4 separate regions of the Homo sapiens genome follow, and all the other regions are linked to region 4. Evidence: fine-mapped expression QTL. A gene starts in region 4. Each other region holds a variant in brackets. All regions are shown on one strand. Distances are from middle to middle.

Region 1 (8,000 bases), 62 kb before region 4:
CCCACCCTGTAAATAAATGTTGGGCTTGGCCATGTGACATGCTTTGGTCAATGGAAGGTGGACAGAGTGATGGTAAGAAAGTCTGAGTGCAGACTTTAAAAATCATCACCACCATCAACAGCTTCTGCTGTTGTCCTAGAAAAGAACATGACTCTCCTAGCCCACTGTCCCTGGAAGCTGACAGACATGTGGAGAGAGCCGAACCCAACTTGAGGCCTGGAGCCACACCCAGCCAAGCCCAGCCTAAAACAGCTGACCTACAGACACAGGAGAAAGCATGAGTTGTTGTTTTAGGCTGTTGAGTTTCGGGGGTATTTGTTATGCAGCATTATTGCAGTAACTACTGGCTCAGTCGGGAAGGCAGCAATCTACATATATTTATTGATTTCTAATTTTTAAATTAGAAACTGCCCTAGGCATATCCCAGTGCCTGTATATAATATATAATACACACAGACACACATGCACACAGACATACACACACATATATACAACCAGTGAGATGGCTTTTGGCTTCAAGAAATTGATGACTTAGCTCTGGAACTCTCCGCTTTCAAAGAACACTGAGATTAGCTAGATGCCCAGTTGCCAACTCCAGCAGGAATCGTAACTCCAAGTGAAGTGACTACACCAGAGAAAGAAACTCTTCATTGAACTCCCTAAAAGAAAAAGCACCCAAAGAACCTTGGGGACAATGAAGAAAGCTGTGACAGTGTCACGAAGCTGGGGGACCTGCCTCCGAGAGAGTGTTTCTTGACCCCAACCTGGGTAGATCCGAATCCAAGCTCAGGGTCCTCCTGACCCAGATGTGTTCAGCCACGTGTCATCGACACCTTGTAAACAGATTGCTGATACAGGAGTGCCGGGAAGAAACGCACACTTGCTTACACTGGTGGGGCACCTAGCACACCTGTAGGTACTTGGCTGATGTTATTCCATCAAATCTGTACGGGAGCTGCCTGGGGGCTTCTGTTCCTGTTTTATAGAGGAGAAAACTGAGGATCTCTGGGCCCTGTGTGGCCAGCTGCACACGACCTCTGTCTCCTCTCCTACAGTGCTCTCCTCTCACCTCACCTCCTGTCTCCCGACTGTTCATGAGTCAGGCACCCTCCTGCCCCAGGACCTTTGCACTGGCCACCCCCTTTTCCCCTGGTCATCTGTGAGGCTCCTCCTTGCCTCCTTTGGGTCTTTGCTCAACTACCACTTTCTCAGTGGAGCCAGCAGCTTGAGCATGGCCCCCTGCCCCCACTGCCCCGCCCTCCTCCTCCAAGGTTTTATTTTGCTTTGTGGCACTTATCTCCAATGGACATACCCTAAAGTCATTTATTGCTGCTCATTGTCTGCCAAGGGCAGGGACTTGTGTCTGTTTTGTTCACAGCTGCATCTCCTGTGCCCAGCACCATGCCTGGAGTTGGTAACTGGGCATCAAGCTAATACATTATAGACTGAACGAATGAATAAATACACGAATGAGGCTTGGAGATGTGAAGGAGCTTGCAAAAAGTCAATAGCTAGAAGTTTTTCAAGCTAGACAGAAGCCCAGGTCAGCTTGGCCCTCTTAGAGCAGCCCCTGAGCCTTGTATAATTAAATGGTGTGTTCCGTTGTTAGTGCTGACAAAGTGCCAGTCTCCTTTCCTAACAATTCGGCTGTACCGAGCGAGGAGAATGGGGGAAGTCACCTGTAATTTTCTTTTCTGTCTTCCCCTTTAAAAGGGTCTTTAAAAATCAGATATGTGTTATAAAAAACAATGGGATAATGGGTCGATTTTTCATATCATGACAAGCAATTGCTAGGGAGAAAAATATCATTCTTGAAAATGTGCAAAAGTGCACTGGCTGTAAGTTGTAAACATGACCCTCACAGGAAAGGATATTCTGGGGGCTCCTGGCACCTATTTCTTTCTTTTTCTTTTTTTTTTCTTTTCTTTTCTTTTTTTTTTTTTTTGAGACAGAGTCTTGCTCTGTTGCCCAGGCTGGAGTGCAGTGGTGTGATCTAGGCTCACTGCAACCTCTGCCTCCCAGGTTCAAGTGATTCTCCTGCCTCAGCGTCCTGAGTAGCTAGCTGGGATTACAGGTACATGCCACCAAGCCTGGCTAATTTTTGTATTTAGTAGAGATGAGGTTTCGCCATGTTGGCCAGGCTGGTCTTGAACTCCTGACCTCAAGTGATCAACCTGCCTCGGTCTCCCAAAGTGCTGGGATTACAGGCGTGAGCCACTGCGCCCGGCCCTGGCAGCTATTTCTCACAGCGTCCATTATTATAAACCAGCTCTCCTATTCTGTGACCCCAGCAACTGAGACACAGAGTCAGGCGGCTCTCAACCCTTCTCTCTGCTATGCGTGACCCTGGCTAACATCTCCAACCTCTGCGGGACTGTCCTTACCCCTCCCTTGGTCCCCTACCACACCTGATGTGACCAAGGCTCTCAGCACCGTGCCTGGTACACAGTAGATGCTCACTGGAGGTGGGTGTGCCTCTCTTCTGAATCACGTGCTCAAGAGGGATGTCTGTGTTCACCTGCGGCCATTTAAAAATCTCAGCTGTGGGCATGTTCTCATGTCTCACTGCACCTTCCCCTGCTTAGAGGTCATTTTCCAAGGAAGGGAAGAGAGAATGTAATTCACAGAAGCAGTGCCACTTTACAGAGATGCTTTGAGCCCAGAGATCCCGATGACTTCAGAGACTCTTGGTTCTCGTGTGGACTGGGAGGAAGGAGTGGCCTGATGCAGAGCTCCTACCTGCTCAGATCAGCCCAGCTCCTTCTCCCTCACTCAACACAGGGTCCTTGGAATCGGTCCCTTTGGCCTTCAGATGATTCTCCTTTTTTGGTAAGAAAGCTTCCACTGAATAAAACCTTTAAGTGATTTTTCCAATCTGGTGGCGTCTGTACAATAACTGAGGAGAGAAATAATTATGATTATGGGGTCTGAATGATCCAGCACTTCTCCACGACTCTGAGGAGGAGGCAGCTGGCCCCTGCCTCTCACATTGACTGTCTTTGCGGGCAGGCCCTGCTTAGACGGCTTGGTTTTCTGCGTTGGAGAAAGGAAGCCAGTGGTGTAGCAGGGAGAGCGCTGGATGTGCACACAGCTTTCAAAGAAAAGCAAAGGAAAGATGACGGGAGGGAAGGGCAGAGCCACACAGGGGTGGAAGCATCCATTTATGGGACATTGAGTTTGTGTGGGGTCCTATGAGCTAACGTTTCCATAGGAAGCCTCAGGCCTAACATACAGATGGGAAATCTGAGGCTCAGAGAGGTCAAGTGACTGTCCTGGACACACAGGTATAAAGAGTAGGCCAGGCCACTCTGCCTCCACCCAGCAGGTTCACATAACAGAACTCTCTGGGCTAAGCTCCACTTGTCAACAGGGGACCAACCCCTCTGGGCTCACACCATGCCACACAGGGCACGTGGGTGCTGAGGAATGAAGGTGAAAGGACCTTGTTCTCCCCCTGCAGTCAGCCCCGATGCTGGCTCTGTCCCTCATCCAGGCTCAGGCGCCACCTCTGGGAGTCAGAGCATCTTCTAGCAGAGCCTTGGCAGGAGGCGAGGTGAGGAGCTGGCACGGCACCCCTGACAGACTGCGCGTCGCAAGCTATTCCTGGAGCCGCTGCGGCACTTCTGTCAGATGATGCAGAAACCCCAGGGCCACTCGCCTGGGGGCTGTGCCCCACGCCAAGCTGCTCAGAGGCACAGCACTGATTGGGGGGCGCTGGTCCAATGGAACCTGCGGCTCTGCACCCCAAAGCATTTTCCCAAAAGTTAAAACTGTAGCAAGGTGCAAGTGTGTAAGAATTTCAGTCCGACTTTGCCCCCTAATGACTGTGAGCTTGAATAAATCAGGCAGCATCTCTGAGCTTGTTTCCTCCATAGGGACGTTGCCTGCCTTACTCTGCTGCCGTAGGATTAAATGGGGTGATCCGTGGAAAAAATTATTAGCACAGAAGTCATGGATTTTTCCAGCTGGGCAAGCGTTATTTGATTTTCTTTAAACAGGGCTCATCCTCCAGGCCAAATTCATACCCACACATACAGGATTCACAAGTGTGAACTTGAGCGTATCCAAAGAAACCATCATTTCTGTGAAATGCCTTGTAATTCTGCAAGCCTTCACTGAGCAGCTGCTATGAGCAAGGTGCCACACAGATGCGGAGAGCAGAGGCCCCAGTTGCTGTGTTCAGATAACGTACAATTCCCTGTGGCCATCCGGACCCTTCGCACTATCAAGGGGCCCACCGCCTGGGAGGGATTTCTGGGGTGCTGATGACCAGACTGCGTCACTTTCCAGGGCCCACTGGGCAAACTGGCTTCTCCCCTGCTGCTGTGTCTTGTTAGAGCCACCGTGTTGTGTTGGGGGTGCTGGCTTAGTTTAGGGTGGGGATGAGAAGCTTTGAGGGACCAGGGTGGAGGCCTCCCCAGGGCTCCTCCTTCTCCAGCAAGCAGTACTAACCTCCACAGCCAGGGTGGAAGCCACAGAACACTCAGAGACAGCAGTCAAAGAGGCCACTTCTGCACTGCCTGGACCAGAGACTGCAAACTGCCCTTCAAGCTGCATTTCAAGTGCCTTCTGTGTGTGTGTCCACGTGTTCCCCTAAGCGACTGGGCTACACCAGTCCACCACAAAGGTACTGT[G/T]GGTTTCCTCTTTTGGCTGGTGAGGACACGGAGGCACAGAGAGGGCTGGCGCACAGCCGGCCGTGGGCAGAGCTGGACTGCCACGCAGGCTGCCTCCCTCCTGGCACGTTCGGCTCCTCGCTTCATCGGCCGGGCCCTTGGGACCCCAGCTCTTCAGGGAGGGACTCCAGGCAGAGCTTCATTCTCAAATGCCCAGACAAGCACTAAATATGCGTAGTGCACCCAGCGCACTTGCCGGGGAGTTGTGACTGCATCTGAGGATCCCATGCAAGGTTTGGGTCCTCTGTTTGCTTTTTAATTTCTCCCTTTACCTCTAACAGGGGAGAAACCAAGACACCGAGAACACAGCTTAATAGATCTGTGATTTGGAATTCTGATCCTGGCTCTACCACTCCTGGCTTGTTGTCTCTCCTGTAAAATGAAAATGACGATGGCTTTACCTGCCTTGGAAAATGAAATGAAATGAAATAGAGAATATGAAGCCCTTCAGAAAGGGCAGCCTGACAGTGCAGTCGTGGTTTATTGCTTCCACGTTAGTGACACATGAAGCACCTTGTCTGCCGGCATGCGGTTCTCTTTTCATTTTGAGCAGGACCCCACTGGGCTCTGCTCCTGAGCTCTCCGCGTCCTCCCCGCCTGCCCTGACGGTTGGCAGCATTACAGCCGTTTATTTTTAGTTCTTGGTGGGCCAGCCATTTCCTGGTCACATGCTGTTTGAGCTCCCACTTCAGAAAGGCTCAGCTCACAAGACAGACTCTGCCCATTCCCACCCCCAGCCTTTCTTAAGGGCTGTGTCAAAGCGAAGCCAGCCCTGACCCTACCTATTTTAAAGTTCCTTTGAGGAGTCCTTTCTTCTGGTCCACTTGCAGCCAGAGTGATTTTGAAGTTTAATTTACGAAATGGGTGGAGAGGTGCACAGAACCTGGTTCTGGGAGCTGGGGCCTGAGATCCGGGTCCAAAACTGCCACCAACTGGTGGGACCTCGAAGTCTGTCCCCTACCCTTGTACAATGAGAAAGGGAGGGGCAGAGGCTTCGTTGCAGGTTCCTTGCAGCCCACTGCTCTGTCAGGGACCATCAAATGAGAGCAGTTCTGGTCATTACTGCAGCTTCAGTTATGAGTATGCACGTAGTAACAGGTGCACTTCCTGCATGCTGCTCTGGGCCAGGGCCTGTTCCAAGCAATTTATCAATGGTAAGTTTACAGATTGGAGCTCTACACCTAGGTACCATTATTACCATCTCAACTTCACAGACAGGAGATGTGATGGGGACGCCTCAGGCCAGGTCTGTGTTTGTGCCCTGCAGCTGGGACTGGAACCCAGTGTCACTCCAGACTCTGCCTTCCCCCCATGGCAGCCTCCCCAGCTTTGCCCTTGATCTTCATGTGTGCTGGATCACAGTGTGTCACTCTGATTGGGGAAAGATGTGTGATCCACCCTCCTTGAATGTCTTTAGGGAAATACTCAGTATTTGGAGATAGAAAAACAACAACCACCATGCAAGGTCCTTATTACCTAGGCAGGGTGCAGCGATGTGGATTCATAGGATGTCAGGTGTGCGGTGAGTGTGCAGGCTGCCCCAGCAGCCAGGGGACAGGTGTGCCAGAAAGAAAGGCTCCGGAGGGTACATCATCTCCAAGATGGATTTGAAGATGCCAGTCTGAGGATGATAGCAACAACTGCCAAAGACCGAAACGGCTTCTTCTGGGGACCTAGAGTGATGTCTGTTTTCTTCTCACCCTCTGGCCCCGCGAAGCCAGGTTGGATGCAGAAAACACTGGGCTGTACCCAGTTGCTGTGGTAGCACGGGCCCCTCAGGCTCAAGGCCAGCTCTGACTCAGTAGAATGGGGGACCCTCACAAGCATGCCACAGTGTGGCTTCTGCTTGCCAAGGGGCCTGCCACAGCAGCCACGGCCATCTGGATCTCGGACCCTGCCCAAGCAACCTGGGTGGGGACATCTCCCTGGAGCCCCACCTGGACCTGTGCTGAGGCCAATCCAGCCCCTGACCTGGCCTGGAGTGGACCTCTGTCTGTGCCCTAAGCTCGGCCACTGTGGTCCTTCCCTCTGTGCTGCCTCGCTGAGCTTCCTTCCTTCCCCTCCCGCCCCTTCTCCTCTTCCTACTGCCCTCCCGTCCTCAAACTCTCCCAGAGACTGAACCCCTGTGTGGGGGAGGGGGAGGTAAGGCTAAACTGCAGATGGGTCTTGTCCTCAAGGAGCAGCTAAGTTTACTGATGTCGCCGTAGTCATTACACCCACCTCAGTGTGCAGTCTCAGCTGCGTGCTGGGAAGACAGGAAAGGAAGACCCAGGTTCCGACATGGGTGGAAGCAAGAGGCTCCACCTCCACCCTCCTCCCTCCCGGCTCTCAGGCGCTCCTCCAGCTTCTCGGAGCTTGCATGCCACTGTCTAAGCTGCAAATCCCCAATGCCCATCACATGGCCTCTCTGGGTGGCACCCCATGCCTGATGCTGAAGTTGCCTGAATACCACCCCCAGCTGTGTTCCCCTTTCCTCTCAGATGCAGGAACCCACCTCTGACATGATAAAGATGGGCCCTGGGAGGGGCACACACTCTCCTCTGTGAGCATCTGCTCCCACCACAGACTCCTGGGGTTCTAGGAAGCCTAATGGCCTAAAGACAAAGGGCAACTCTGTCTCATTTGGGGAAGAAGTCGTGCCAGAGAGAACGAGGCTGCAGACCTGGAGTGGAAGGGGTCCCACTGGCCTCTCAGCACCTTGTGACTTTACTATGTCTCCCTGCCTGCAGAATGGGCGTACAGATATCAAGGCCATATACTTGTGGTGCAGAATAAAAGAGAAGAAGGACGGAAAGCCCCCAGGAGAGGCCCGGGCCACAGTTGTGCTCTGCTGTGGGTGAGAAGAGGTGCATGTTTGGGAAGCTCACGTGCTCTCCTCATCTGTAATAATTACCACACCTACTCCAAGGCTGTAATGAGGTTCAAGGCAACGTCTGAAAAGCTTTGCATCGATAATCAGGCATATGATAAATATTAATTAATGTTAAATATGAATATCATCTCTCTCTGAGAATTCTTATAAATACTCCATGCCGTAGGTAATATCACACCACTTTTCAAATTTGGAAGCCACACTAGTTAGCATGAAACTGTGACTGGAGTCAAATCAGGTTTTCCTAAGGCGGAAAAGTAGTCACCCCAACATAGCCAATATTTATGGAGTACTCTCTGTGGGTCAGGCCCCCCACATAGAGGAGCTCATTTGGTTCCTTTTTAATCCCCCTACTGACCCTATGGGGTAGAGACTTTGACTCATCCTTTACTGTAGATGAGAAAACTGAGATGCAGAGAGGTTAGTAACTTGCCCAGAGTCACATAGCAAATAAG
Region 2 (8,210 bases), 920 kb after region 4:
GATTTCACCATGTTGCCCAGGCTGGTCTCGAACTCCTGAGCTCCAGCAATCTGCTTGCCTCAGCCTCCCAAGGTGCTGGGATTACATGTGTGAGCCACCTATCTTTCTGTCTCTCTTTTTTTTTTTTTTGAGACAGGGTCTCACTCTGTCACTCAGGCTACAGTACAGTGGTGCCATCATGGCTCACCGCAGCCACGCCCTCCCCAGGCTTAGGTGATCCTCTCATCTCAACTTCCCCAGTAGCTGGGACTACAGGCACATGCCACCACATCTGGCTATTTTTTTGTAGTTTTTTTTTTTTTTTTTTTTTTTTTTTTTTTTAAGAGATAGAGTTTCACCGTGTTGCCTAGGCTTGTCTCAAACTCTAGGCCTCAAGTGATCCTCCTATTTTGGCCTCCCAAAGTGCTAGGATTACAGGAATGAATCACCATGCCCAGCTCTGCCCTGTCTTTAGAAACCCCACTCCCCTTTTTTTTAAGGATTTGTTCTTGTTTTTATTTTATATTTTAATGTTTTGAGACAAGGTCTCACTGTTGCCCAGGCTGGAGTATAGTGGCCTGAACACAGCTCACTGCAGCCTTGACCTCTTGAGCTCAAGTCATCCTCCTACCTCAGCCTCCTGAGTAGCTGGGCTTACAGTTGTGTGCCACTACGCCCAGTTAATTTTGTTTTTTTGATAGTGACAGGGTCTTGGCCATATTGCCCAGCTGGTCCCAAACTTCTGGGCTCAAGTAGCTCGCCCACCCTGGCTTCCCAAGGTGCTAGGATTACAGATGTGAGCCACTACTCGTCAAGAACCCTATGTTTTTCCATTATTCTTGTTTGAGGCTCTCCACAAATGGTCTCCAGCTTGCCTTCCTGGCTTTGTTTTTTTTGATAAAGACACATATTCCTCTGAGTTGCTTTATTCACCTTTTCCTTACCACACTTTGTTCCCTACTTCCTTTATCTTGATTCCTGTCAATTCCCCTTCATCTCTGTTTTCTAGCTCCAGTACTCTGTTGGCATCCTGCCTGACTCAGGTACCAGTCCACTTTTAAAGCTTTTCTTGACCACTTACGTCTATAGTGTTCTTTTTACTGAATCCCTGGGGCTTGCCACAGATTATCTTATAGTTGTGGATTTTGTATATGTATCTTTCCTACCTTAGGAGGGGGCCTTAAGGGTAAGTCCCAGACTGATTTACCTGTTTTTCCCCAAATGTTAACCATTTGAAAGAAAGAACTAAATGGATATTTCTCAAATGGCTTTTGATAGATACATGTACAATACATCTGTTGTCATACCTGGTTGGAAAAAAAAATGCCTGTAAATTCTTCACATTGTTTGAAATCAGTGTGTCAGAAGCTGTAGGATTGTAGAAGCTTTCTTAAGCAAGGCCATAGTATGGCTGTCAAATCTGTTACTAAGCTTTAGTCTCCATTTCTGAAAAACGAGAGTAATGTGTAATCCTTAAGATCCTTTCGTATTTTGACATTCTCTGACTCTTGGACATACTGCTGTGGCTTTTGCAACATCCTAACTGGTTAGTTGACACCATCAGAAACTTTAAGGACCCTGTTAGCCATTGAGTATATGGAGCTTTGCCCATTCGTTTCTGAGAGGCAAGAGGCACTGGTAGGCAGTTAGATTTTTCTTTAAAATGTGTACTCGTTTCTAAATTACAGAAGCAGTATAAAAGTCTTAAAGCGGGCCGGGAGTGGTGGCTCACGCCTGTAATCTCAGCAGTTTGGAAGGCTGAGGTGGGCGGATCACCTGAGGTCAGGAGTTCAAGACCACCAGCCTGACTAACATGGTGAAACCCCGTCTCCACCAAAAATACAAAAAGTAGCTGGGTGTGGTGGTGCGCTCCTGTAATCCCAGCTACTCAGGAGGGTAAGGCAGGAGAATTGCTTGAACCTGAGAGGCAGAGGTTGCAGTGAGCCAAGATCGCGCCACTGCACTCCAGCCTTGCCAACAGAGCAAGACTTCATCTCAAAAAAAAAAAAAAGTCTTAAAGTGAACAGTTTTTTTCTGTCATTCTGGATAATTTGATGGCTATAATTCAAAACGTTTATTTTTTATAAAATTTAAATGAGATCATAAAATACATACTCTTCTGCTATTAGCTTTTTAAAAATTTAACCATATAGTCAGCTTTTCTTATAAGTACATACTATTTTTAATGACTGTATAATATTGATCATAATTTAACAATCCTCTAAATGAACATTTCAGTTATTTCCAGCTCTTTAAGAAAAGTATTTAATAGGGCCGGGCGCAGTGGTTCACGCCTGTAATCCCAGCACTTTGGGAGGCCAAGGCGGGTGGATCACTTGAGGTCAGTTGAAGACCAGCGTGACCAACATGGTAAAACCCTGTCTCTACTAAAAATACAAAATTAGCCGGGCATGGTGGCACATGCCTGTAATCCCAGCTACTTGGGAGGCTGAGGCAGGAGAATTGCTTGAACCTGGTAGGCAGAGGTTGCAGTGAGCCGAGATTGTGCCATTGCACTCCAGCCTAGACAACAAGAGCGAAACTCCATCTCAAAAAAAACAAAAACAAAGAAAAGGGCTGGGCACGGTGGCTCCCGCCTGCAATCAATCCCATCACTTTGGGAGGCCGCCGAGATGGGTGGATCACGAGGTCAGGAGATCAAGACCATCCTGACCAACATGGTGAAATCCCGTCTCTACTAAAACAAATACAACAATTAGCTGGGTGTGGTGGCGTGCACTTGTAATCCCAGCTACTCTGGAGGCTGAGGCAGGAGAATCGCTTGAACCTGGGAGGCAGAGATGGCCGTGAGCCGAGATGGCGCCACTGCACTCCAGCCTGGCAACAGAGAAAGAAAAGTATTTAATATTTATATTTTCCTACTTATCTAATCATTTCCTTAAGATTTAGTGAGTATACATACTTAAAATTTGGTTTTCATTGCCATATAGCCTTCAGGAAGGTTGTATACTTTACATTTTGTAGTTTGAGAATTTCATTTATATACTTGTCAATTGTCAGTTTTCTTAATCCTTGCCAGTTTAATGAATGGGAAAAATTTAAATGATGTCTCATTGTTGAGGGCTTGTGTTTTGGCCAGGCCTGGTGGGTCACTCATGCCTGTAATGCCAGCATTTTAGGAGGCCAAGGTGGGAGGATCGGTTGAGCCCAGGAGTTCAAGACCAGCCTAGGCAACATGGTAAGACCCTGTCTTTACAAAAAGTTAAAAAAAAAAAAAATAGCTGGGTGTGGTGGCACATACTTGTAGTCACACCTACTTGGGAGATTCAGGGGAGGATCACTTGAGCCCAGGAGGTTGAGGCTACAGGAAGCCATGATAATTCCACTGTACTCCAGCCTAGGTGACAGAGGGAGATGTCTCAAAAAAAAAAAAAAAAAAAAAAAAAAGACTTGTGTTTCTTTGTTTGATAGATTAAACTAGAAAAATACTAACTACTTTTTTATATTCACTTAAATTTTGTAGAAATTTAAGTATATATAATTGTATAATAAATGTAGAAAAAATATTAACTACATTTTTTTATATATACTTAAAATTTTTTTTAACTTTCACTTTCTGCTTTTGTATATTTATAGTCTTTTGTGAATTGGCTTTTGTTCTCTAAAGCCCATGTGAGGTTCTTGTACCTCACCTCTCTCCCAGTTTATAAACTTTATATGGCAAGAATTTTGATCCTTTTCGTGTTGCAAACATTATTCCTGGCTTGTATCTCTTGGTCTTGTTTGGCTGATGGCATGTTTTTGTAACATAGAGACTTTTCTGTAGTCACATCTGTCAATTCATTTTCTGTGTTTCATATTATGCTTAGGCCTTTCCCACCCCCAGGACAATAAAAACAATGTTTTCTTCTAGTAATTCTAGCACTTAGCCAGGTATAATATGTCGGAATCTTTTCCCAAATGTATAGTTTTCCCAGTATTTTATTGTATTATCTTTTCTCTTTGACTAGAAATTTTTTTTATCACACAGTATATTTCCTACTTCCATGTCTTTTTTTATTTTTATTTTAAATAGATTTATTTACGAAATAGAGATGGTGTCTCACTATGTTGCCTAGGCTGGTCTCGAACTCCTGCACTCAAGCAATCCTCCCACCTCCACTTCCCAAAGTGCTGGGATTACAGGCATGAGCCACCATGCCTGGCTGTGTCTTTTGTTTTTTAACTCTTCTGTTTCATTCTTTGTCTGTGGGACAGTACTGCTGTCTTATTTGCGTCTGTTTTGTTTTATACGTATATACACAGATACATACACGCATACATATACATACACACAAACATTTTTTTTTTCCTTGGAGACAGGGCATTGCTCTGTCACCCAGGCTGGAGTATAGTAGTGCGATCATGACTCATCGACTCATTGCAGCCTTGGCCTCCCAGGCTCAGGCGATCCTCCCACCTCAGCCTTCTGAGTAGCTAGTATGTCCGGAATTGGTGGGTTCTTGGTCTCACTGACTTCAAGAATGAAGCCGCAGACCCTAGCGGTGAGTGTTACAGTTCTTAAAGATAGCGTGTCCAGAGTTTCTTCCTTCTGATGTTCGGACATGTTCAGAGTTTATTCCTTCTGGTGGGTTCGTGGTCTCGCTGGCTTCAGGAGTGAAGCTGCAGACCTCCACGGTGAGTGTTACAGCTCTTAAGGTGGCACGTCTGGAGTTGTTCGTTCCTCC[C/T]GTCTAGAGTTGTTTATTCCCCCCGGTGGGTTCGTGATCTCGCTGGCTTCAGGAGTGAAGCTGCAGACCTTCTCAGTGAGTGTTATAGCTCATAAAGGCAGTGCAGACCCAAAGAGTGAGCAGCAGCAAGATTTACTGCAAAGAGCGAAAGAACAAAGCTTCCACAGTGTGGAAGGGGACCCGAGCGGGTTGCCCATGCTGGCTCGGGCAGCCTGCTTTTATTCCCTTATCTGATCCCAGCCACATCCTGCTGATTGGCCCATTTTACAGAGAGCTGATTGGTCTGTTTTGACAGGATGCTGATTGGTGTGTTTATAATCCCTGATCTAGACACAGAGTGCTGATTGGTGTGTTTACAATCCTCTAGCTAGACGTAAAAGTTCTCCAAGTCCCCACTAGATTAGCTAGACACAGAGCACTGATTGGTGCATTTAGAAACCTTGAGCTAGACACAGAGTGCTGATTGGTGCGTTTACAAACCTTGAGCTAGATACAGAGTGCTGATTGGTGTATTTACAATCCTTTAGCTAGACATAAAGGTTCTCCAAGTCCCCACTAGATTAGCTAGACACAGAGTGCTGATTGGTGTATTTACAATCCTCTAGCTAGACATAAAAGTTCTTCAAGTCCCCACTCGACTCAGGAGCCCAGCTGGCTTCGCCTAGCGGATCCCGTGCCAGGGCCACGGGCGGAGCTGCCCAGCAGTCCCATGCTGCGCACCTGCACTCCTCAGCCCTTGGGCTGCCGATGGGACCAGGCGCTGCAGAGCAGGGGGCGGTGCCCGTCGGGGAGGCTCGGGCTTCACGGGAGCCCACCGCAGGAGGGCTCGGGCATGGCGGGCTGCAGGTCCAGAGCCCTGCCCCACGGGGAGGCAGCTGAGGCCTGGTGAGAATTCGAATGTGGCACAGGTGGGCTGGCGGTGCTGGGGGACCCGGTGCCCCCTCCACATCTGCTGGCCTGGGTGCTAAGCCCCTCACTGCCCCAGGCCGGTGGCGCCAGCCGGCCACTCCGAGTGTGGGGCCCTCCAAGCCCACACCCACCCGGAACTCCCGCTGGTCCGCGAGTGCCGCGCGCAGCCCCAGTTTCCCGCCCATGCCTCTCCCTCCACAACTCCCTGCAAGCAGAGGGAGCCGGCTCCAGCCTTGGCCAGCCCAGAGAGGGGCTCCCACAGTACAGCAGCAGGCTGAAGGGGTCCTCAAGCATGGCCAGAGCAGACGCCGAGGCCGAGGAGGTGCTGAGAGCGAGCAAGGGCCACCAGCATGTTGTCACCTCTCACTGGGACCACAGGTGTGTACCACCATGCCTGACTAATTTTTTTTGTAGAGATGGGGTCTCAGCTTGGACATTGGAATTGCTAGCCAAAGACATTAGAGCAACTGTCAGCAATATGCTCAGTGGACTAAAGGAACCACAGATGAAGAACTGAAGGAGAGCAGAAATACAGTCTCTGAACAAAATCAAGAAAGAGGCTGGGTGCAGTGGCTCATGCCTGTAACGCCAGCACTTTGGGAGGCCAAGATGGGAGGATTGCTTGAGCCTATACGTTCAATATCAGCCTATTCAACATGACAAAATAATTTCTCTCTCTCTTTTTTTTTTTTTTTCTGAGACAGTCTCGCTCTGTCTCCCAGGCTGGAGTGTAGTGGCATGATTTCGGCTCACTGCAACCTCCATCTCCTGGGTTCAAGCGATTCTCCTCCTCAGCCTCCCGAGTAGCTGGGTTTATAGGCGCCCACCACCACACCCAGCTAACTTGTGTATTTTTAGTAAAGACGGGGTTTCACCATGTTGGCCAGGCTGGTATTGAATTCCTGACCTCAGATGATCCACCTGCCTTGACCTCCCAAAGTGTTGGGATTACAGGTGTGAGCCACCGCACCTGGCCAAATTCTTGCTCTTAAAAAAAAAAAAAAATTGGCACATGCCTGTAGTCCAGCTACTTGGGAGGCTAGAGTGGGAGGATCACTTGAGCCCTGCGGTTGGAGGCTGCATTGAGTTATGGTCACATCACTGCACTCCACTGGGTGACAGAGTGAGACCCAGTCTCAAAAAGATAGAAACTATAAAAAGGAACTATACAGAAATTCTGGAGCATAAAAGTACAATAACTGAGATGAAAACTTTATTAGAGGGGTTCACCAATAGATTTGGGCAGACAGAAAGGCCCATACCTGGGTCAGCCCTCTTAGAGGGACTGATCCATTTGGGAGACATTTGAAATTTATTCTCTTAGATATTTTGAAATATGATACATTATTATTTGAAATATGATGCATTATTATCGACTACATTCCACTGTAATAAAAAGAAAACATCACAGTGGAAAGGCCACACTCCTTCATTATCCAGTTGGGAACCTCAGCAGCACAGCCAAGTGATCTGCTAAGCTGCTTTGGGGACCACACCTGTGCCACTTGTATAGCTCCCAGCACAGCCTGGTTCACAAGAATTCCTTATCCTATTGTGGACCTTTTGGCCCAATTAACACAGGCCCACAGGATTTAAAGTTGCCATTGGTCCTTGTGAAAAGCTAACCAGGTAATGTCAGTGTGAGGTCACATACAATGTGTGTGTTTCTGCCCTGCATTTGGCTCAGAGCCACTTGTAATAATTTTTTGCTGTTGAGGTTTCCTTGATACTTCTCTGAAGTCACTTTTTCTTTTTTTCTTTTTCTTTTTTTTTTTTTTTGAGACAGATTCTCGCTCTGTTGCCCAGGCTGGAGTTTAGTGGTGCGATCTCGGCTCACTGCAAGCTCTGCCTCCTGGGTTCACACCATTCTCCTGCCTCAGCATCCCGAGTAGCTGGGACTACAGGCATCCGCCACCACACCTGGCTAATTTTTTTGTATTTTTAGTAGAGACAGGGTTTCACTGTGTTAGCCAGGATGGTCTCAATCTCCTGACCTCATGATCCACCCGTCTCGGCCTCCCAAAGTGCTGGGATTATAGGCGTGAGCTGCCGCGCCCGGCTGAAGTCACTTTTTCATTAAATTTTTCTGGTTAACTTCAAGTACTGCGTGTCTACCTGTTGCCTAAACTAGGGTATGCACTGCCCCAATTCTGCAGGGAGGGTGCAAAACAGCAAAATTAGATGTGACCCATCTTTCTGGAGTTTCAGTTGTACTGTAAAATTTGGAAGAAACAGTAGTTTATTAAGAATCATCTTTTTTTTTGTTTTGGAGACAGAGTTTTGCTTTGTTGCCCAGGCTGGAGTGCAGTGGCATGATCTCAGCTCACTGCAGCCTCTGCCTCCCTGGTTCAAGCAGTTCTCCCACCGCAGCCTCCTGAGTAGCTGGGATTACAGGTGCGCGCACCACCATGCCCAACTAATTTTTGTATTTTTAGTAGAGACGGGGTTTCGCCATGTTGGCCAGGCTGGTCTCGAATTCCTGACCTCAAGTGATCCACATGCCTCAGCCTCCCAAAGTGCTGGGATTACCGGCCTGAGCCACCAGGCCCGGGTGAGCACCATCTTATTAAGAAAAGACACAGAAGAGCAGGGAAGGGGAGAAGTGTTCCAGGAAACACAGTCCAGGCTCTGACA
Region 3 (8,000 bases), 94 kb before region 4:
GACATTTGATTCACATGGTACAAAATCAAAGTGGCATGAAAGATGTACACTGACGGTCCCTTTCCCACTTCCTCCCATCCACCCGATTCCCTATCTTCCCCTAAACTCTTCTCTTAGTGTCTCAGCCTCTTTACAAGCAAATACAAATATAAATCCTAATTTTTACCCCGGTCCTAAACACAAAGAAACACACAACAGATCCTGCTCTGTGTAGGGCTTCGTTCACTTGACACCATATCCTGAAGATCTTCCAACGTTTGAAATAGGGCTCCTCCCCAGCTTCTTACTACAAAACTTTCAAATGCACAAAAACACTGAAAAAAACATTCCAATAAAAACCCATATGCCTACTATCTTTATTCAACAGTTGTTATTTTATTTGCTGTATACATACACATTTATGAATATAAAAATGGCTGAATCTTTTAAAAGTAAATTGCAGGCTGGGCAAGGTGGCTCACATCTGTAATCCCAGTGCTTTGGGAGGCCAGGGTGGAAAGATCGCTTGAGGCCAAGAGTTCACAATTGGCCTGGGCAATATAACAAGACAGACCCTGTTGCTAAAAAAGAATTTAAAACAGAAACTGGACATTGGTGGCGTGGTGGTGCACACCTGTAATCCTAGCTACTTGGGATCACTGGAGCCCATGAGGTTGGGGCCGCAGTGAGCTGTGCTCGCACCACTGCTCTCCAGCCTGGACAAAAGTGAGACCCTATCTCAAAAAAAAAAAGAAAGGGAAAGAAAGAGAAGAAACAGAAGAAAGAGAAAGAAAGCAGGAAAGAAAGAAAGAAAGAAAGAAAGAAAGAAAGAAAGAAAGAAAGAAAGAAAGAAAGAAAGAAAGAAAAGAAAAGAAAGAAAGAAAGACAGAAGGAAGGAAAGAGAAAGAAAGAGGAAGGAAGGAAGGGAGGGAAAGAGAGAGAGAAGGAGGGAGGGAGAGAGGAAGGAAGGAAGGGAGGGAGGGAGGGAGAGAAAGAAAGAGAAAGAAAGAAAGAGGAAAGAAAGAAAGAAGGAAAAGAATGAAAGAAAGAAAAGTAAGTTGCAGATTATAACAACAGACAAATCTGGGTAAAGGATCTAAAGGTTTTTTATTTTTTTTTATTTTTTATTTTCTTTTTAGTAGGAGTCTCACTCTGTTGCCCAAGCTGGAGTGCAGTGGCGCAATCTCGGCTCACTGCAAGCTCCACCTCCCAGGTTCACGCCTCAGCCTCCCGAGTAGCTGGGACTACAGGTGCCCACCACCATGCCCAGCTAATTTTTTTCTATTTTTCAGTAGAGACGGTGTTTCACCATGTTAGCCAGGATGGTCTCGATCTCCTGACCTTGTGATCCACCCACCTCAGCCTCCCAAATTGCTGGGATTACAGGTGTGAGCCACCGCGCCTGGCCTACAGGGGTTCTTTATACTATTCTTGCAAACCTTCTGTGAAGTTGAAGGTATTTCTGAATAAAAAGTGTTATAAAAATAATCTATTAACTATTAAAACACTTCACCCTAAACACTTCAGCATGCTTAGTGACATTCTCTTCAAAACTACAATACTATTTTCCTGCCTAAGTAAATTAGCAATAGCTCCCTAATATCATCTAATATACAATCCAAATTCGAATTTCCCCATTGTCTCCAAGTATTTTACAGCTGGTGTTTTAGAACCAGGATGCAAAACTCTTATGCTGTATTTGTTTGCTATGTTCCTTTAGTCTTAGAGGGGCCAGGCTAGTAAATGCCTTACATCCTGTATCTGATTGTTTCCCGTCATGGTCTGTCATTTGACTTGTTTCTGTGTTCCCATTCATTACCAAGAACTTCCCCCCTTCCTCAACACAAATGTACTAGGCTCACCTTATAATTTCCTTGTCCCAGATTTGGAATTAACCATTTCTCCAGGGAGCCCCACTTCCTTTCAGTGTTTAAACATCAAGATTTAAAGTTGGGAGTGTCCAATGCCACCGAGGTGCCTTTGCTTTCATGCTCTTCATTAGGCAGAGCTGAAAAACTTAATTCTTTTTTTTTTACATGAGACTTAAGAAAACTTAATTCTTAAAAAATGAGTCCATATAGATATTTTCAACTATAAATCAATGTTCTGGCTAGGCGCAGTGGCTCATGCCTGTAATCCCAGCACTTTGGGAGGCCAAGGTGGGCAGATCTCTTGGGCCCAGGAGTTTGAGACCAGCCTGGGCAACTTGGCAAAACCCCATCTCTACAAAAAATACAAAAATTAGCCTAGCATGGTGGTGCACACCTGTAGTCCCAGCTAGTCAGGAAGTTGAGGTGAGAGAATCGTTTGAGCCCAGGAGGTCAAGGCTGCAGTGAGCCATGATCGTGCCACTGGGCTCCAGCCTGGGCAACAGAGCAAGGCTAAAAAAAAAAAAAAAAAAAAAAAAACAGAGCAAGAAATCAATGTTCTAAAGTTTTCTCTTACCTTCTTTGATTTTGTATTTTATCTCTTTTCTTTTACACTGAAAATCTTGGTTCCTAATAGCATTAACATATTTACTTATAGCATAGCGTCAAAATTACAATACCAATATTGCCACCAATAATAAGCCTACGGCAAGAAGCTAGAATTGCTTTGCATTTTTTTGTCTTTAGAATATAGTTCAATCATAATATGACTAGAGTATTGTGTTTGAAGTTTAAATTCTTACAAACAGGTTATAATTATTTTCTCTGTGTGCTTATGTTACTAATTTGATAATTAGATGCATTAACTTCAAATTAAATTTCTTTCCATTTGTAGGTTTTTCCTTCTTGCTTTTCAATTTAATTTTCTTTTCCAAATATGAAAACGTGTACTTGACACAACAGTCAGAAATATATTAAAAAATTCATCCAGTGAAGTCTCACTTCTACCCCATCTCCTCCATCTCCCCGCTCGTTCCCTAGCGTTAATCATTCTAATTATTTTCTGTTTTTTCCCTCTAAGCATTTCTTTTTGCAAAAATAAGAAAACTACCTGTTTATCCATCCATCCATCCATCCATCCATCCATTTATCCATCTAGTCTATCATCTATCTATTCTCTGTCTAATCTATTTATCCATCCACCCATCTATTCTTATTTTTCCTCCTTTCTTACTTAAAAGATAGTATGCCACATATCCTACTCTAGAAACAGTCTTGTCTATTTCTGGATTTCTACCAGGTTTTCTTTTCCTCACGTTTAACATATTCTGGAGGTCACTCTGTGTCACAGATCCCAGACCTGCCTCCATTCTGCCTTACTGTTGCGTAGTACGCCCTGTGGGGGTGAACCATAGTTTTTTCAAGCACTCTCTCATCGCAAAACACTTGGATTGTATCCAAGCTCTTATTTATTAAACAGTTGGCTGCGGTAGATAAACTTGGACTATTTTATGTCATCTGCATGATGTTGTATCTTCAGGGTATGTGCCTAGATGCAGGATTGCTTGGCTGAAATGTAAATGCATATGTAATTTTCGTAGGTATTACCAAATTCCCCTCCATGTGGGAGTGTCACCTTTCACTCTATGAGTGAGATGCGGGAGAGGGCCTCTTTCTCTTGGCATGACCAGCAGACTGTGTGTTTGACATTTAGGTTTTTGCTCATATGATAGGAGACAAAGTGTGGGTTGAACATCTCAGATTTTAAGAGCCATTACTTCTTTTTTGGTAAACTGAGTATTCATGTCTTTGCTCATTTTTTTCTATGGGGGTTTCGCATCTCTTCTTAACATTTAGGAGCTGTTTGTATATTAGTTGGTCATTTGTCTTTTGACTTTGTTTACATTGTATTTAGCCAAGCAGAAGATTCTTATTTTTGGTTTCTTTTGAGATTCTTATTTTTGAATAGTCAAGTTATCAATCTTTTCACTTTATGGCTTCTGAATTTTGATTCTTGGTGATAAAGGCCTTCCCCACTCCACGGGTATAAAGGAATTCAGCCATATTTTCTGTGACTTATATTTCTTTTGCAGTGAAATATACATGACCTAAAAAATTAACCACTTTAAATGTACAGTTTAGTGGTATTAAATACATTCACATTCTTGTGCAACCATCACCATCATCCATCTCTAGATAGTTTCATTTTTTTACATTCGAATCTTTGACCCATTTGAATTTTGTCTTGGTGTAGGGTAGGAGATACCCATCTTTTACCAGACCTTTTTTTCAATTCAGTGAAATTCACCTCACAAAAAATTAACCATTTTAAAGTGTACCGATTTAGTGGCATTTAGTATGTCCACAATATTGTTGCAACACTATCTATAAGAAGTTCCAAAATGTAGATGGTTTGTAATCGTCTCAGCAGAATTTATGAA[C/A]AAGTCCTTCATTGCTTCACTGAATTGCAATGTCATCCTTATCATGTGTTAAAGTTCCCTTTTCACTCAAGCCCAGTCTATTTCTGGATTTCTGCTCAGCTCCACTGGTTTGCTTATTCATGAGCCAGCCCCCATATTATTGAGACATTATAGGAGCCTGCCCTTGACACACATTACATGCAGGAGGCCCCAGGTCACTCTGCGAGCTCTCCCTGGTCCAAGCGCATCACTCCCATGCTTTGACTCTGATGGTAATGTAGGCATCTCCTGGATAAACTGTTTCTGACTCTGGCTTCTTTCCAGAGCTACAGATCCATCCTGCCAACCTGTGGTCAGACTCTCCTGGCTGTTCCACAGCTCCTCAGATTGCTTGCAAATAATTGGCTCTCCTTCACATAGCGGTTAAAGGCCCTGTGAGCCTTCCAAATTATTCAGGCTCAAAACAGGGCTGTCGTCTTTGACTTTAATTCTATTTCTACATTCAATTGGTCCCCAAGTCCTTCTAGATTTCTGCATCCAGTCTCCTTCTTTGCATGTTATATCCCGGTAGGGGTGGAGACTGTTGCTGCCTTTGAACTTACAGTAGCTTCTTCTCCAATCTCCCTGCCCAACCCCAGGCTCTCCATGACCCACCTCCTCTTCCGGAAGCTGCTCTGATGGTGTCGTGGTCCGACGGCCCCCACTGTTTGAGAATGCAGCCTGCACATCCCAGCCCAGTATTCCCAGCCTCCCAGGAAGGCTTCTACTTGTTCCTCTGCCACAATCTGAGCCACATGCACACCCACCTGCCCACGGTTCCTGAAGCATACGCACACGTTCCTGCCCTGTGCCTCTGAACAGGCAGCCTCTCCTTGAGGTCCTCACCCTGCCCCAGTCCTTTAAGGCCCTTTAAATCCCTTCATCCATGGCATCCACTGTAATTCCCTAAATGCAGGTGCAGCTTCCGGAAGAGGAGGTGAGTCATGGAGAGCTTAGGGTGGGCAGGGAGATTGGAGAAGCTACTGCAAGTTCAAAGGCAACATACCCCTTCCATAACCCTGAAGCACTTCTTGCCCCTGTCACATGTGAGTTGATCACAGTCCTCCCTCGTTTTCTCCTCTAGCACCATCCCCCACCCTATAGATGGAGGGTCCTGAGAGCAGGGGTGCCACATGGCTCTGTGCTGCAGTGGCTTCTAAGGTGAGTGTGGCTGGATGGGGCGCAAAACAGTCCTGAGTGAACGATGATGTTTGTGTGGACTTGGGGAGGGAATGCACCGTGCATGTGCCCATGTCTGCCAGGGCCGTCTTGGAGAGCAAAGATCATACTTTATTCACCTGTGCATTCCCTAGGGTTCCTGGCACGGGCCTGGCAGAAGGTGGGTGTTTGATCAATGTCTGTTGAAATGAATTGTAGGCAGTGTTTCCATAATGGCCACTTACCAAAGAAACTCAATTCCATTACTCTAGCTATAGCTGATGCAATATGTTTCCTTGACCACCATGGAAACAGAGTTTGTTGAGAAGTAGTTTTGCATCTGTAATGAGAATTCTTTTTCTCCTGGTTTTATTTATGTATTTACACATTTGTTTTAGAGACAAGGTCTTGTTATGTTGCTCAGGGTGGATTCAAACTCCTGGGCTCAAGCAATCCCCTGCCTCAACCTCCCAAGTACTGGGACTACAGGCGCACACCACTATGCCTGGCTGCTCTCTTGGTGGCTTTTATTATTATTATTATTATTATTATTATTATTATTATTATTTTAAAGAACCCTGCTTTGCAGACTTTAAGATATTTTTAGTTTTGTGTCTCTATGTATTAACTATGTTTTTAAATTTGCTGTACTTTGATGCTTTAACATCTCAGGCCTTGCTGATCCTGGAAAGACAGTCCCACCCCATCATGGATGGGACTTCAATTGCCTTTATCAGACTCTCCCCGCTCCAGGCCACTGTCCCCCTGTCCTGATCACCTCAGGGCCAGGCAACAGACAATTAAGGACAGCCTTGCATCTGAGAGCCCTGAAATTCTTCAAACTAATCAATCCTAAACCTGCTCACTGCACCTCACCTGTTCTTCCCCTCGGAAGCCACAATAAAAGCCCCGGCCCACAGTTCCCTCTCCCTCTGGCCCCTGACCTGCCCCGTGCTCCCCTGCAGGGCCCTGCGTGGCATGCTTTGCCATCTGTTTCTAGGGACCTGTCAATGGAATAAACTTCTCCCCTCATGACAGTAATGTTCATGTCTGTGTGTCTTACCATATCCAATTAAAACAGATCCTAGGTACTCTTAAAACACCCCAGCACTGCATTCGATGCGAAGTATAATAAATTCGTGATAATCCTTTGTTGAATGATTAAATAGTCTCCTACAAAATATTTCTGTCTGAAAATAACTTTCCATGTTGTTACCATGTACAAAATGAGTCCCCCGGGAACCTATAGAACCCTGGTGATCCTGTTACTGCTGGAATGGGAAGAGCCAGCCTCCCCCTTCCCTTTTTTCAGGGAACCAGGCTTTCTTAGCATTCATTTTCTTACAGAAGAAAAAGCTGATAAAAAATAGCTTTGCGTAAGGAAAGTGAGACGAAGCCTTTAAAAAGTAGTAAAAACAGCACTTGGTATTTGTGTGAGAGTTCATAACGTACAAAGCACTTTTCCCAGAGTTTGTTTCATTTGTTCCCCACAAGCTTGTGAGGTAGGGATTCTTTCCCCATTTTCTAGCAAAGGAAACAGACCCTGGAGAGACTAAAGGGCAGCGCTCAGCCCCCAGTAGGTGAGCCACAGGGAGGGACTTGAGTACAGGGTGTGAACTCCAGACTCAGGGTTGTCACTCTCACAGCTCAGGGCAAAACACAGCAGGAAGCAGGGGACTGAAGATTGAGGAGGGAAAGAAAAGCCTTCTTAACAAGATAAAGAACCCGCTGTGTGAAAACACAGGGCTGGCATCTTCCCTACACGCCCAGACCCCAGGGCTTGTGCCTAGAGCTGCTCACCCCAGGTGAGTCCTGAGAAGGATCTGGTTCCGTGTCAGGCAGGGACAGGTGGTTCACACTCACCAGCACCTGCAGATGTGCAAACAGGGAGGCCACTGGGAAATGTTCTTCTGAAGACTTCACAAATTTCTAAGTGTGGGATACAATAGGAACAGAAGGGCTGGGCAGAGGCTAACCCTGGAAGTAACCACAACAAATGGCAGCCAATGTCCACTGGAGACCTCATGTCTATGAGGCCACCGAGTGCACTGACGGACACCATGACTGGGTCTCAGGAGGTTCAGTGACTTTTCCAGCCCAGGGCTGTCTGAGCAGAGCTGGGAGGAGCGGTGGGTGGAAGGAGGGTGAGAGTGCCAGAGGCGTTTGAACCAGAGCAACTCCATCTTGAACGGGGGCTGGGTAAAATGAGGCTGAGAGCTACTGGGCTGCATTCCCAGACGGTTGAGGTATTCTAAGTCACAGGGTGAGATAGGAGCTTGGCACAAGATACAGGCCATAAAGACCTTGCTGATAAAACCGGTTGCAGTAAAGAAGCCGGCTAAAACCCACCAAAACCAAGATGGCAACAACGGTGACCTCTGGTTGTCCTCACTGCTACAGTCTCAACAGCGCCATGACAGTTTACAGATGCCATGGCAACGTCAGGAAGTTACCCAGTATAGTCTAAAAAGGGGAAGCATGAATAATCCACCCCTTGTTTAGCATATCATCAAGAAATAGCCATAAAAATGGGCAC
Region 4 (8,207 bases):
GGCCCCCGGGGTGGCTTCTGAGGTCCCTAGGGTCTCTATGAGAAAGATAGCAGAGGCGGGGCTGGAGATGAGGTGCTCTTAACCCAGGTTTTGCCCACAGTTGGTACAGTAGTGGGGGAGGGTTCAGTCTCCTCTTTTTTTGCCCCTTGCTTTTCCTCCCTTCTTTCTTCCTAACTGGGAGGAGACAGGATTGCACAAAGCGAGGCCCTAGTTTTGCTGAAGAGGGGTAAAAAGCCTGGGGGGAAAGATTGAAGCCCTGGTGACTTGAGGTCCCCTCCCTCTTCCTAAAAGCAGAGTGAATGATTCTGTGCAGGCAATAATAATAATACTTATTATAATGATGCTGCGGGGGTCTCCCAGATCATGCAAGAGGGCAGGCAGGCTGAGCAGCTGGTCTCGGTTATGAAGATACAGAGGTGTTTCATGCTGGCTGGCACAAACCTCTGCCCTGAGCCCCCACCCTAGGACCCCCAAGACTGCCCCAAGATCCAGCAAGCACAGGGTTAACATGAGTCATGGCAAGGGGCCTCCAGGACCTCTGCATCATCTCCAGGGGCTGGAGGCAGGGCAGGACAGGTAGGTAGGACCTTGGCCAGCCCCTTCCTCTTTGGTAAACTGAGGATAACACTATGGAAAGTGTTCATACATGCTCATGGTTCTGTTGCTCTTTCTATTTCAGTGCTCCTGCCCTCAATATTTTTTTCCCTTAACCTTTTCTAGACCCATAGGTTTCTTCCAAATTCTGGGGCCGAACTGCCTCAACCATCCACCTCTGTTCTTAAGCCCATCAGCACCCACCACAAGGCGGACGCTGACATCCAAGAGGCAGCTCAGTTTAAATTAAGAAGTTGAGTTATCATCTCTAACTAGAGCAAAAGCAACGGAGCAGAGAGGGCTCCCTGCAATGCAACTTCAGCACAGAGATTGTGAAAACCACCCGCAGGCGAAGGGAGGGCAGGGCAGCCAACTTGACCGTTTCTAACCCACTCACCCACCACCCTCCCCCTGTGCCAGGACTGCAGAACCTCTTTATTTTTGTTGACTTCGAACTAGGACAACCTCACTACTTAACCAACAAAGCCCCCCAAGTCTGAGACTCAGACATTAAAAACTTCTATTTTCAATTATTTGTCTTCTTTCTGTATATTGATCAAATTACCACAAACCACTAATCTGTTAGAAATTAATCCAAGATTGAGCAATTCTACAGCCAGTTAAGTCAGAGTGGAGAATTAATGATTAATTAGCATCATAATGCTCAACAACCCCCCCACTTCCTCTAATGCGTATGCACGTACAGACACATTCTTTAAGAAATGTATTACCAGAACTGGTAGGAACTCTTCTCAGCACGTTACCCACTTGAAAACACTAGAGAGAAACCATAGCCAGTCTGTGTAGCTGCCCTGAAGCTATGACTCTATGCCGGGTTTTAAAAGTCCATATCTCTGTGTTTTTAACGTGCAGCTCCCTGGATCATAGATACCTTGATGAAGACAGAGAAGAAATTTTACACCTGTGTGAGGGTTGGGTGATTACTGGAGCACAAAGAGAGACATAATCCAACCACACAATGATCCCTAGGAGACAAGAGGCCTACAAAACAGGTAAAATGTCCCTGGAACAGGAAATGTTCTTGTCACCAGGCCAATTGGTTACCACAAATAAATTCTTTTTCCAAATAACACAAACAAGCAGGGTTTTCCTGCTTCATCCAAGAGGAGGGAGCAGCAGCAGGAGACCAGCTGTCTTGTGTATAGTCCCAATGTTTGCTTCTAATAGCAAGACAAATCCTTGATGGAAAATGTACAAAGTAATTGAGCTGGCAAGGAATCAGAAGGAAATACCCAGGCCCCTTTCTTCCTGGTGACACATGTATGCCATCTTCAGAAGCTCAGAAACAAGCAGGAAAAGTGAGCAAAGGTGAAGATATATGTATTACTTCGGGTTTCTCATCCATCTAGGGGATTTTCCTTAATTGTCGGGTTTGATTTTAAATGAATGCCTGTACAACCGGAAATCAACTCCAGTACAAAAAATAAAGTCATGTGGAATTTTTGAAAATTGCCATACGGTAGGATCCATATCTGAGTTGTTATAATGAAAAAAGAATTCCTGCTTCTTAAATTTAAAAATTATAAAGTATACATTTTAGCTTTGTTAACATTGCTCAGCCTAACATTAAAACGGCAGGGGAAGTAGGTCATAGAGAAAGCGGCCCCGCCCCAGATGGCACATGATAACGACCAGAGGAGAAGCAGGGGCCATGCTCCCCTGTCACCTGGGGTGACTTTCTGGGGAAGACTTACTTGGGTGTGCCTGTGGGTTTCCAGTACCTGCAGAAGAGGTACTGTCCGTCTGCATTGACCAGGTGAGGGAGGTCCTGGTAGGGAATGCTCTGCGGGGTCCGCCTGGGGGAACTTTCCTCTGGCATGCTGGAAGGGTCTTCAGGTCCTAGAAGGAAAAGTGACATATTCCAAAGTCAGAAATATCTCAAGAACATGTATGGATAGGAGAGAAAAGTCTAGTTCAGAGTCAGTAACATTTTTTTAAAAGCAGTTTAAAAAACCCCTCTGTTTCAAAGGTTTAAAACATACATACATTTCTTGCAAACCTCTCCAAGACTGAAAAATCCCATTTGTTCTTAAGAAAATGCTCACTTTATTTTTTAAGTGCCTCATTACAGTTTTTCCCCCTTCCCATCTGTGTTTATTTTAAATCATTTCAGGAAACTTCATCTTAAAGACTATTTTAGCTGTAATCAAGTGGAAATTATAGTCAGCTCTATGGGTACAAAGACCCAGCTGCAAGAAGACCCATCTATCTTAAAATCTCCAAGGAACAGTTTCAAGTGGGCACAATAATGAGGTGGATGATACTCAGATTATTCCTCCCATCTGAAATTCCAAGGATACATGACAAACCTGTTTCCATTATGTGCTGGCGTTTGCATTCCACAACCACGACAGCCTGGAGAATCAGAACCAGGCAAATCGGGCTGTTCCCTCATCTGGGCGGCCCCAAGGCAGCAGGAAGGCAGCTCCGAGCCCTCTTCCCGCACCCAGACCCTGCCTTTCGGGCTGGGGCGCTCAGCCGGGAGCCTGCTTCCAGCTCCCACCGGCAGGCTCTCCGGGGCTCCCCTCCCTCCCCAGGGCGGGGAGCGGCGCTGCGATTCTCCACTACTAGTTCATGTCATCACTTTTCCTAAACAAATCGCTAGAGGGGCTCGGAGAAGGGAGGGGCCCGGGAAACTGGGAAACTAGCTCCGCGCACACCGAGGCACCTCGCAGACGCACAAATGCGGGTGCCCAAGGCAAAGTCGCCCCCAAGGCTTCTCACAAACTTTGCTTCCTGTGCGTCTCCGACAGCACAGGACACGTAGCCCCGAAGCTGTCATCGGAAATGCCGCTGGGAAAACCGGGTGGGCTTCGCCGGGTGTCTGCACCGGGGAAGGTGGGGACTAGAAAGATGGAGTTGATGGGGACAAGTTGGTTTGGGGGCTGGTGCGAAGGAGCAGGGAGGGCGCGCGCGCGCGCACACGCGCGCACACTCGGACACGCGCGCACACACACCGTGCACACACACACACGCACACATGGGTAGCGGGAGCCCACGCCGGGCGTGTCCGGGACCCCAGTGCTGCTCCCCACCCCTGACGGCGGCACTGGCGGGCTGGGGCAGGGGCCGGGAGGCAGTTACCGGGGCCACGAGCGCCGCTGTCGCGTTCCCCGAGCGCAGCGGATCCTCGTTTGCGGCGGGCCAGGGCCGGGACGAGCTGCGCGCGACCGGCTTCGCGGCGACAGGGTGCGGCGTCTGCGCCGCCACTTTATCCCTGGGCCGGCTCGGCGGCGGGGGCGGCCCGAGGTGGGTGGGGACGCGCGGGACCCGGCGGGCGGCGGGCGGCGCGGGGAGGCGGCGCCCGGGGCCCACGTGTGCCCGGCCCGCGGGGAGGAGCGGGGGCGCCGCCCGCCGACCCAGCCACGCACTCCTCTCCTCCGCGCCTCGTGGACAGCCGCGCCCCGGGGTGGCCGCCCGAGGACTGTCAGGGAGGCCTGAACTGAGCTGGGTTCATGGGAGCCTCAGCGCGGGAGGACACACCACACCCACGGGCACACGCGCGCACACAGACCCACAGGCACCACACGTACACAGACAACTCGCGCAGGGCCGCACACTCACCACACGTGTACACATGTGCACTCCCAAAGTCACTACACTGCACGCAGGGACATACAGACACACATCCCAGAGATACCACATGCATACAGACACACACAGACCACACATGCATGCACACACACAAGCCGAGACATAGGCACAGACAACCCACAGAGACACAGAGGTGCACAGACATATGCAGACTATACACCTGGCCCCCACATAGACACAGACACACTCACATCATACACACACAGTCGCACACAGACACACTCACACTTCATTGCAGTCAGACACATACAATGCTGGAGGGGCAATTAACCGGTCGTGGTGGCATGCGCCTGTAGTCCCAGCTACTCAGGAGAATCGCTTGAACCCGGGAGGCAGAGGTTGCAGTGAGCCGATACCACACCATTGCACTTCAGCCTGGGTGACAGAGTGAGACTCCATCTCGGGGAAAAAAAAATGCTGGAGGGGGTCCACTTGACTCTAGGGTAGTGTAAAAGCAGATGGTGCATGGCTACAAATGCCTTGTCCCTTCCTGGCAATCCCCAGCAACTCTCCCGTTCCCAGCGGCTGTGACCCCCAGATAAAACCTCTGGTGCATCTACACAGGCCAGGGCACAGTCTGAGCTCTGTCCAGTATAACTAGCAACGTGGCCGTGGAGGGTAAGGCCACTGGACTGAGACTCCACACCACCTGGGTTGAACATTAGCTCCTCCGCTTGCTCTTTGAGCCTCAGTCTACCTACCTTCAACCTGTGAGTGATATACCTATGCCCCAGTGGAGTGTCCCTGTCTCACACTGACCTCAAGAGGCCTTCCTGTCTTTCTCCGCAAAAAATTCTACACCATAGCAGCGTTGAGGACTGTGTCTCAGCGTCACACTGTGTGTGTCCAAGGAGGCCCAAGTTGCTACAGAGCCTGTGGTCTAACTTGAGAAATAAAACAACAGCCTTTGAGCAGTGGCTTGAGTTGTAGGCACTGCTGAGCGTGACTTACCCACTGTCTGGCCTCCAGCAGGCCACGAGGCCTGGAGCAGAGGAGTGGCTAAGTGACTTCTGGTCGGGGCAGCTCTACAGAATCCATGCAAGAGAGGTTTAGGGGCGGCAGTCTCAGGGGCAGGAAGCTTGGGGGCTTCACTCAAAGCTGGACATGCTAAGTGCACCGGATTTCCGTTGGTTATAATTCATGGAAAGGAAGGGTGCTCGGGGGTCTGATGGACGCTTTTATCAAGGCATTATTTCAAATGTTCCTGGCTCTAACATTTTATGATTTAAAATACACAGCTTGAAAATTTGGAGGAGAGGCCGGGCTCAGTGGCTCACGCCTGTAATCCCAGTCCTTTGGGAGGCCAGGCAGGTGGATCATCTGAGGTCAGGAGCTGGAGACCAGCCTGACCAACATGGTGAAACCCCATCTCTACTAAAAATACAAAAATTAGCTGGGCATGGTAGCGGGCACCTGTAATCCCAGCTACTCGGGAGGCTGAGGCAGGAGAATCGCTTGAACCCGGGAGACAGAGGTTGCAGTGATTGCACTCCAGCCTGAGCGACAGAGCAAGGCTCTGTCTCAAAAAAAAAAAAAAAAAAAAAAAGCTTTGAGGAGAGACTTCACTGAAGTTGTCAGAGGGATCTCAGTAGAAGTGACATTTGCAAACTTGAAGAGATCCCCCAAACTTGGTTATGGACAGAACTGAGACTGTGGTGTGTGGCCAGCCAACTGGGAATTTGGGAGTTAAGAGACAGATCGTATTGTTCTGTATCTGGCTTTTTCTTTTAATTAAACTTATTCTGAGATAATTGTAGATTCGCATGCAGTTGTAACAAATAATAAAGAGAGATGCTATGTGCCCTTTACTCAGTTTCCTGCAATGGCAACTTCTCACAAACCACAGTAAATATCACAACAGGATACTGACACTGATAGAATATCTGTAGTCAAGCTACAGAACGTCTCTACCCCACAAAGTGGTATGCTTTTATAGCCACATCCACTTCCCTCTCATCCTCACTCCCCTAGAACCCCTGGCAACTGCTAATTTGTTCTCCATTTCTAAAATTTTGTCATTTCAAGGATATTTTATGAATAGAATCATAAAGTACATAACCTCTAGGATTCACCTTTTCATTCAGCATAATTCCAGGTGGGTTGGGTGTAGCAGTCCACAGTATGGAAGTACCACAGTGTGTCTAACAGGTCATCTGCTGAAGGATATCTGCGTTGTTTCCAGTGTTTGTTGATTAAGAATAAAGCTGCTGTAAACCTCCGTGTACATGTTTTTGTGTGAACCTAAGTCTTCATTCTCTGAGATGAGGGCCCAGGAGTGCAATTGCTGAGCTGTAGGGAAATTGCAAGTTTTTAAAGAGAATGCCAAAATGTTTTCCAGAGTGACTGTAGCATTTTACATTCCTACCAGCAGTGTAGGAGAGAACCAGTCTCTCAGCATTCATGTCAGCATGTAGTGTTGTCACCATTTTAAAAATTTTAGTCTTTCTGTTAAGTGTGTAGTGATGATATTTCACTGTGGTTTTTAATTTGCTTTTGCCTAATGGCTAATGTTGTTTCATGTGCGTATTTGCCATCTATATATCCCATTCAGTAAAATGTCTTTTCTTGTCTTTCGGCTATTTTCTTGCCCCCCACCCCCCTTTTTTTTTTTTTTTTTTTGAGACTGAGCCTCACTCTGTAGCCCAAGCTGAAGTGCAGTGGCGCCATCTTGTTTCATTGCAACCTCCACCTCCCAGGCTCAAACAATTCTCATGCCTCAGCCTCCCTAGTAGCTGGGACTACAGGTGCAGGCCACCACACCTGGCTAACTTTTTGTATTTTAGTAGAGACGGGGTTTCATCATGTTGCCCAGGGTGGTCTCAAATTCCTGAGCTCAGGCGATCTGACCGGCCTCAGCCTCCCAAAGTGCTGGAATTACAGGCATGAGCCACCACGCCCATCCTTTAGGCTATTTTCTTTCTTTCTTTTCTTTTCTTTTTTCTTTTTTTTGAGACAGGGTCTCGTTCTGTCACCCAGTCTGGAGTGCGTTGGTACGATCTCCGTTCATTGCAGCCTTTGGCTATTTTTTAATTGTTTGCTTGTTGTTTTCTTACTGTTGAGTTTTGAGAGTTCTTGGTATATTCTAGACATTAGTCTACTAGATACTAGATGTGTGATTGCAAATATTTTCTTCCAGTCTGTAGCTTGTCTTTTAATCCTTTTAACAAGGTCTTTTGCAGAGCAAAAGTTTTCATTTTGATCAGAAACAATTTATCAATTTTTTGTTTTATGGATTATGCATTTGGTGTCAAGTCTAAGAACTCTGTGTAGTCCTACCTCAAGAGATTTTCTCCTGTGTTTTTCTCTAAAAGTTGTATAGATTTACATTTTATGCTTAAGTCTGTAAGCTATTTTGAGTTACTTTTTGTCTGGAGTGTGAGATTTAGATCAAGGTTCATTTGTCTCTACATGTCCCATTGCTCCAGCACAGTTTGTTGAAAAGGCTGCCTTTCCTCCACTGAATTGCTTTTGCACTTTTGTAAAATTCAGCTGCCTGCTTGTACAGGTCTATTTCTGGGTTCTCTCTTTTGTTTCTTTGGTCTGTGTCTATTCCTCCACCAATACCACACAGTCTTGATTATTGAAGTTCTCTATAAATCTTGAAATTGAATAGGCTGGTTCCTCTCACTTTATTCTTCATTTACAAGACTTTTTTTTTTTTTTTTTTTTTTTTTTTTTTTTGGTAGAGAAGGAATCTCTCCATGTTGCCCAGGCTGGTCTTGAACTCCCGGCCTTAAGCCACCCTCCCACTGTGACCTCCCAATGCACTGGGATTACAAATGTGAGCTACCACACTCAGTCTACAAGATTCTTTGAACGATTCTAGTTCCTTCACCTTTCAATATAAATTTTAAAATAACCTTGTTTATATTCATTAAAAATTTTGCTGGGATTATGATAGGAATTGCATTAAACATGTATATTCTTCGAGAACTGACATTTTTACTATTAAGTCTTCCAATCCATGAACATGGGTATATATGTCCATTTATTTAGTT

What was found. PIP is the estimated chance that this variant, and not a neighbour inherited with it, causes the effect.
Region 1: its variant is fine-mapped to the expression of MGLL in whole blood (TOPMed, PIP 0.96).
Region 2: its variant is fine-mapped to the expression of MGLL in lymphoblastoid cells (GTEx, PIP 0.93).
Region 3: its variant is fine-mapped to the expression of MGLL in monocytes (Quach 2016, PIP 0.95).

Annotation. Positions count from the first base shown.
Region 1 is chr3:127,756,996-127,764,995 of GRCh38, forward strand. The region is part of intron 3 of MGLL (monoglyceride lipase); the gene reads right to left. Among named protein-coding and RNA genes, the nearest start is that of MGLL, 62 kb to the right of the region's middle. RefSeq lists enhancers at 5,975-6,024, 7,815-7,864, 7,985-8,000. The variant G/T (reference allele first, on the strand shown) is at 4,635.
Region 2 is chr3:128,737,537-128,745,746 of GRCh38, forward strand. All of the region lies in intron 1 of RAB7A (RAB7A, member RAS oncogene family), which reads left to right. Among named protein-coding and RNA genes, the nearest start is that of RAB7A, 15 kb to the left of the region's middle. The variant C/T (reference allele first, on the strand shown) is at 4,668.
Region 3 is chr3:127,725,343-127,733,342 of GRCh38, forward strand. All of the region lies in intron 3 of MGLL (monoglyceride lipase), which reads right to left. Among named protein-coding and RNA genes, the nearest start is that of ABTB1, 56 kb to the left of the region's middle. The variant C/A (reference allele first, on the strand shown) is at 4,289.
Region 4 is chr3:127,819,385-127,827,591 of GRCh38, forward strand. It overlaps MGLL (monoglyceride lipase), which reads right to left and starts at 3,131. Exons shown (of 8, transcript NM_007283.7): 1 at 2,925-3,131; 2 at 2,310-2,454. The coding sequence starts at 2,934. RefSeq lists a silencer at 3,573-4,092.